Linked DNA regions of Homo sapiens. The protein of the gene in region 2 interacts with the protein of the main gene of each other region in a pairwise test. Each region holds a gene or a part of one and is shown on either strand. Other genes may lie near its edges.

Evidence for each region.
Region 1: the proteins of WWC2 (region 2) and REPS1 interact in a two-hybrid assay, tested with the Homo sapiens proteins (one large-scale study listed by BioGRID and IntAct).

Annotation. Positions count from the first base shown.
Region 1 is NC_000006.12:138,905,554-138,908,510, forward strand, and holds part of REPS1 (ralBP1-associated Eps domain-containing protein 1), read right to left. Parts: intron 2,048-2,957; coding exon 1,942-2,047; intron 1-1,941. UniProt on the Homo sapiens protein: May coordinate the cellular actions of activated EGF receptors and Ral-GTPases.
Region 2 is NC_000004.12:183,255,963-183,259,789, reverse strand, and holds part of WWC2 (protein WWC2), read right to left. Parts: intron 152-3,827; coding exon 62-151; intron 1-61. UniProt on the Homo sapiens protein: Regulator of the Hippo signaling pathway, also known as the Salvador-Warts-Hippo (SWH) pathway.

The DNA.
Region 1 (2,957 bases), on a different chromosome or scaffold from region 2:
GTGCTGGGATTACAGGCGTGAGCCACCGCGCCCGGCTGAAATGTAGTCTCTTTATATGTTTAATATTAAAATAAGATCCTAGTAATTTCAAACATTTTCTTATTACACAAATCAGGGAAATAGAATGTCTAGTTTTTAGAAAAGTCACTGTTTGCAACAATGGGTATTAACACCTGAATTTTGCAATAAACCCGCCCCCTGGTAGATGAATTTGTTAATGTAGCTTCTTTTCCCTAGTGATGACATCTGGCTATATCAACTCCTAGATCTCATTTTGAGCTTTAGTTTCCCAAAGAATAACTTTGCATTCAGAATTTTTAATCAATGTTGATTTTAGGCAGTCTTTTCAGTTAGCCACCATATTCTAACTTACTTACTTTCCTATTTTTCTCTTTCAAATTGACAGTATTGTGTTTTAACCAGAACTACCTCTATTTTGTACCTTACTTCCCATTTTCTGTTCTCAGAAGTAAGGAAAAAAGTAATTTTTCAAAATAGCTTCTATATACTTGTTTCAATGGTCTTCCCTGGTTCAGAAAAACATGCATTAACAAAATTTTCATCTTCATGGTATTATACTACTAAGCTTGTCTTTAAGTTCATTCTTCCTGTACGATGGACTAAATTAATAATCATATAACTACAAATGTCTTCTCCTCTGATCATAGAGTTATACAACAATATCATTCATTCAGTAGATGTTTATCAAATGCCTAAAATATGATCTAGGTTTTGGGGATAGACACAAAGTGGCCATAAGTTTATATCATTCATTCAACAGACATTAAAAAATGCCTAACATACTAGGTTTCGAGGAGAGGGACAAGACGGTCATAAGTTTATCTAGGACAATCCCAGTTTATACCCAGTGTCTTGGCCTAAATGATAGTAATACCACCCTCTTTTTTTCCTCTCAAAAGTGTCTCGATTTGGATGGTATATTACGTGGTCTTCCTAAACAGAAATGATTATGATTTACCCTCAATGAGTTCACTGTAGTAGGACAGAGAGACAAATGTGTCACAGATAATAATTCCAGGACAGTGTAATAAATGCTAAATGAGGAGCATGAACAGAATGTTAGGAGAATGAACTAACTGCATTCATTTTTCATTTCCATGGACTCTCATCTCATCTTTGTTCTATTCCAAGTGGGGCCAACAGTGCTCCAGCATCTCCACTGCCTGGAAGCTTAGGAGAAATGCAGAATTCCCAGGTCCCACCTTAGCTCTACAAAAACCAGAATCTTCATTTTAACATGACCCAAGATTACCTGTATATGCCTTAAGGTTTGAGAACCACTGGTTTGTAAGACATGAGTACCTAATAATGTTGGGGAACCATAAGCAATTCTGGGAGTAATTTTTTTTTTTGACTCAATAAAGAAGGAGTAAGTAAGAGTAATTTTTATTTCTAGGGATGCAAAGAAATTATAGTTACTAGAAAACAAACACATTCCTCTCAGGTATTAGGTGACAGTATACACACTGCATAAGCAGCATTTCTATTTAAGGCTTGCCTTTTCTCTTTCCACATGCAAGATGACTGAAATTGCTGCCACTTCTCTTCTTCTTTAGACCTGTTTAAGTCCCTTTAATGGAATCTGAGTTGTCTTTGATAAAAGGACAAACTAGGACCTGGGTGCAGTGGCTCACGCCTGTAATCCCAGCTACTCAGGAGGCTGAAGTGGGAGGATAGCTTGAGCCCAGGTTGCCAGGGTGATAGAGCGAGATCGTGTCTCTTTAAAAAAAAAAAAAAAAGTGTGTGTGTGTGTGTGTGTGTGTGTGGCGGGGAGGGGTTAACTAACCACAGTCAAAGCATCTAGAAAATTAGAGAAGAGAACCATATATGTGATCTTGGAGGTATCTGAGGTCACATTCCTTCTCTTTAGGTTTCTTTACTAAGATAAGGAACATTATAAAGATTCAGAAACTATATTACCTTTAATTGTTGCTGCAATTCGCTATTCAATCTGGCCAAAACGGTGTTGGTTTCCTTATTACGTCTAATTGATGCCTGAATAGCTTTCTTATCTTTCCCAACAGATCTGAGAAGATAAAGAAGGCAAAAAAACCCATAACCTTCATTTCTTATCTTAAATCCTCTCTATTCCTTCCTGATCTATTTCTAAACATGAGAAGCAAAAAGAGCATCTTTTTCCTTACTAGCACAGCTCAACCTCACTTGCTCAGTTGCAGTAGTATATAAGCTTCAGCACTATAGGAAAGGTTAAAAAAAAAAAAAGAAATTATTAAAAAAATTCTTCTTCTGTAGAATCACCTGAATTTAAGTAAAAGAGTCTAAAGTAGGTACTGGCAAACCTTTTCTGTAAAAAACCAGATAGTAAATAATTTCAGGCTTTGTGGGCCAAAGAGTTTCTGTCTCATATTCTAGTTTTTTGTTTTCTTTTCTCTTCTATTTTTTCTTCTCTCTTCTACAAAAAAGAAAAAGTCATTCTTAGCTCATGGGCTATACAAAAACAGGCCATAGGCTGAATTTGGCCCATTAAGACTTAATCTGCTGATTCCTGGTCTAGAACACCATAATTAAAATACCAGTTTTACTATAAACTATCAAGTTTAAAAAATGTACTGCTACGGGGTTTGAAAACAGGGTGTTAAAATGGCATTGAATTCAACTTAATAAAGGGGGAAACATGGGAAGAATACCTACCCGTACATGAGGAGGCTCTGCTCAATTAAAGAACTAGTCTGACCATAATTTACTTCAGTCTGATTATTGTTATTATTATTATTTGTGAGATGAAGTCTTGCTCTGTTGCCCAGGCTGGAGTGCAGTGGTGCCACCTCGGCTCACTGCAACCTCCGCCTCCTGGGTTCAAGCAATTCTCCTACCTCAGCTTCCCGAGTAGCTGGGACTACAGGTGTGTACCACCACACCCGGCTAATTTTTTTGTATTTTTAGCAGAGATGGGGTTTCACCATGTTGGTCAGGCT
Region 2 (3,827 bases):
AGATGAACAAGAACATGCTATTCGGAGAAAAGCTTTCCCCTCAAAAATCTGATAAGCTCACCTTTTAAGTTGTGAATGCAAATAAGTAGTTAATTTAGTAGTTTCTTCAAGTTTCTGTAGCAGCTCTTTTCTTCTCTCTTCCAATCTCAATCTAGGAAGAAAAAAAATTATTTTCAAATGATTATAACAAAATATGAAAACTAAAAGGAAAGAAAGATTCTCATTGTACAAACATTACAGATCACAAGGGAAAAATGTGAATGGGCTCCACAGACAGAAAACAGGACACCGGCAAGAAGTGTGGGGGGCAGAGCTGCACGAGCCAAGCTGAAGGATGGGGAGGGAGCGTTATGCCCCATCACCATGTCACTGAGAATTTAAAATTGCTGGTAGCCTAGAATCTTTTTAAATGGGTAAGTAATATGGTCCTTTGAGTTGGGGAAGAAGAGTGAGGAGGAAAATAACCAAGGAAACAAAAAACTAACCAAAGACTAGAATCCTGACACAGATCTGTGACCTGGGAACCCTTTCCTAAAACATTTCACAGCAACAGTAAAGGTCACCCTAAATACCGAATTTAGTAACGCTTGTTCCAACATAGTATTTAGTGATAACATTCCCAACCCTGATTTGATAAGAATTAGCAATTAAGAAACAATTTTAGTCCACAATACCATTGTGGGCTAATTTGGGCTCAACTGTTTAGGGAAGAGGATGACCTAAAAGTGATTCCCCTTCCGAGCTACAGCACATCTCATCATCCGCGTCGGACTATCATAAAATTTCATCCACATTCAACTGCAAAAGTTTTTCTTTTTTTTAAGAGTACAGCATTATAGAACTGTATACTTGAATAGTAAGTCATTTTAAAATATACCAAGTACCCAGGGGTTTATGCAACTAAGAGTCTGTGCAAGTATAGTCTATGTCGTGTGAAGGTCTTTAGACATCATGAAATAAAGTAGTTCAGAGCAGTAAGCAGCAGAATGGAATTCAGAAAAAGGGCACCTGGGTTTCTAATCTTGATTTGCAGCTTACTAGCTGCATATCCTTGGTAAGTCGCTGAATCAAGGGTCTTACTTTTCTCATCTGTAAAATGGTGACTATAATTCCCCTGTGTCTCCCTGGTAAGGCTGTTAAAGGGATCAATGGAGTAATGTATGAGAAAGTGCTTGACAGAGAAGAAAAACAAATCTGACTTGTTCAAAGCCTCAGCATGCCCTGAAAAGTGGTGATATAAAAACTAGCCACTTTTCTTTGGAGAAAAATAAAATTTCCTTAATTTCTAATCTCTTTGAAATGTTATATATGTTTTTGGCAGTAAGGAAACATGCCCATATTTTATTTATAGGTATCTATCCCTTTGATGTGTCAACAACACTATTCCATTATATGTTAAACTAAAAAAAGTAATTCTTGCCATTTTCTTTAATACTTCAAAAGCGCGATAAATTCTTAATTCATGGCTTTCAAAGGTGTATTTTTAAAAGCAGCGGTCATTTTAAAAATCTTTCAAATATAAATAAAAACTCAACGAGGAAAAAAGTAATATGAAGTAGACTAACTGAATTAAAAGTGCACAAAGGTCTGAAGAAAGCCCCAAACTCTACTAAAATCCATGTCTTCTGAAACAAGAGAAACACTTCGGAAGGAAGTTTTAAAACTCAATATTGCTTTTATTAAAATGAAGCCTTTTTCTAATGCTTTCAGGAGGCACCAGGATGACGTCAGAATGTGACCCTGAGCCACACTTTCAGTGCTGTCCCTTCTCCATCACTAGGGAGCGTCCTCAGCCTTCTCCAGGTGATGCTCGGCAGCTGCTCTTCCAGCCCTTTAATGTCTGCTTTGAACCACAGATGCCTGTCTTTGTGTTCTTGTTCACGTTTCCCACTTAGCTCCTACAATCCCAGAATGCAGACATCAGCCCTTTCTCCCTGCAGCACAGGGTGCCCTGGCCAGTCCCTCCGTTCTTGCTGGTGTTGAGATGAAACCTTCCCTGGGAGAAGCATGAGGAAGGCACTGGGGAGAGGCACAGAAACCCTCCTAGTGGGCCGCAGTTTGTCTCTGATGTTATCACCAAAGCCTCTCCTAGCGAAAGCCTGAAGTCTTCCTCAGAATCCACGTGTATTTCATGTGAAATGCTCTCCCCAACTTCCCCATAACCAGGGGTTAGAAGAAATTGCAGACATCAGCCCTCTCAAAAGGGTGCACACCTGTCTCTCTAGGTTCTTCTCCAACTCCTGCCTGTTGGTCTGCTGGATGAGAAAGGGTTTCCTCTACTTGGCCCTTAAAAGATTCCTCCCCCTGGCCCATCTGCTCCACATCCCCTTTCAAGCTGCCCTTTGTGAAGTGTGGGCCTTCACACCTGCCTGACTCTGCCCTCAGTGCCCTGCAGGAGAGAAGCACAGCCTGGTTTCTCCTGAACTCAGAATTCTGCACCTAGGGAAAATTTCATGTCATCTATAGAAGCAGGAAGTCCCTTTTCCACTCAAAACTAAGTGACACTCATGCCCCCACCTATTTGCTTTAAAAAATTTTTCAGAAGCAGTGGCAAAAACATTCAAATAATTAAGAAACAATTAAGACGTCTTGGCAATTACAAGGCAAACCCCCAACACTTGTGATAAAACAAGGAGCAATGTTAAGATCTTACCAGCTATAGGAAAGCACAGAGTTTAAGGAATTTCAATAACTGCATGGGAAGAATACGAAAGATGCATAGAAACACCTTCCCTGCATGGTTTTTTTCATTTGCGAGCAATTTCTCTTTAGGCCTGGCAATGCTTCACCATGAGCACCTCTTTCCCACCACCAGGTGGCGAGCACAGTCGCTGCCATCAGGCCCAGTGGGCGACACTGCAGCCCTGTGGGGGCAGGAACAGAGCCGGGGGGGGGGGGGGGGGGGCTGTAGGATCACACTCAGAGACTGAAAATTCATGTGCATCTAGCTCCTTCAGACACCAACGTTCAGCAATGACTCGGAATCTTGCCAGAGGTCACCCCTGAAATAATGGGAACCCCAAATATAAGTGGAAAACAGGAATATGTTGGGGAATACGGCAGGTAGCTTTGACAGTCATGTAGGTACCAAGAAGAAAAGGAAGGATTTGGGGTTGGTGGCACACAATCTGTTCTATGATGAAACTGAGTTTCACACAGCAAATCCTACTTCCCAAAAGAAGCTCCAGCCAGCCCTGCTTTGACACTGAGGAGACACTGCTGGCAAGGGCGTTCTCTTCCCTCTTAAACTCCCGGCGTCAGTGCAACAGCAGCAATGAGCAGAGCAGAAACCCACACACACAGGAGGAAGACACGAAAGGGTGAAGCCATAAGAAAAAATGCCAGAGCATGGGGGAATAGAAAGCAAAACCATAATAGCAACAGCAAAACCCAAAGCCAGACGAGGTTGTATCTACTTGGGAAAGAAAGGATTCAGTGTTCCCAATGGCAGCAGGTTCTGCTCTTCTGGACATGTGAACTACTGAGTCACTTTGAGCATCCCAGGATAGGAGTTAGAAAGCTTTAAGCTGATCAAGCAAGAATGTCTGAGTCCTTCAACCTTTGATGGCAATGTAAGTATGAGGATTTGCCTTTGGCCATAGACACTGATAAGGAAACTAGTATCCACTTATTTGGAATACTAAATGACCTGGCTCTTCCAGGTAACTCAGAAAGTCAACATACTACATATATAAAATACATGTTTCCCTTCCTGCTAACATCCAATCATGGGAGACAGGGCCATGGAGGTATCATATCCACACCACTTACTCCCCAGATGACACAAACCCAGTGGCTGGATCTCACTAAATAAATAATTTTTAAAA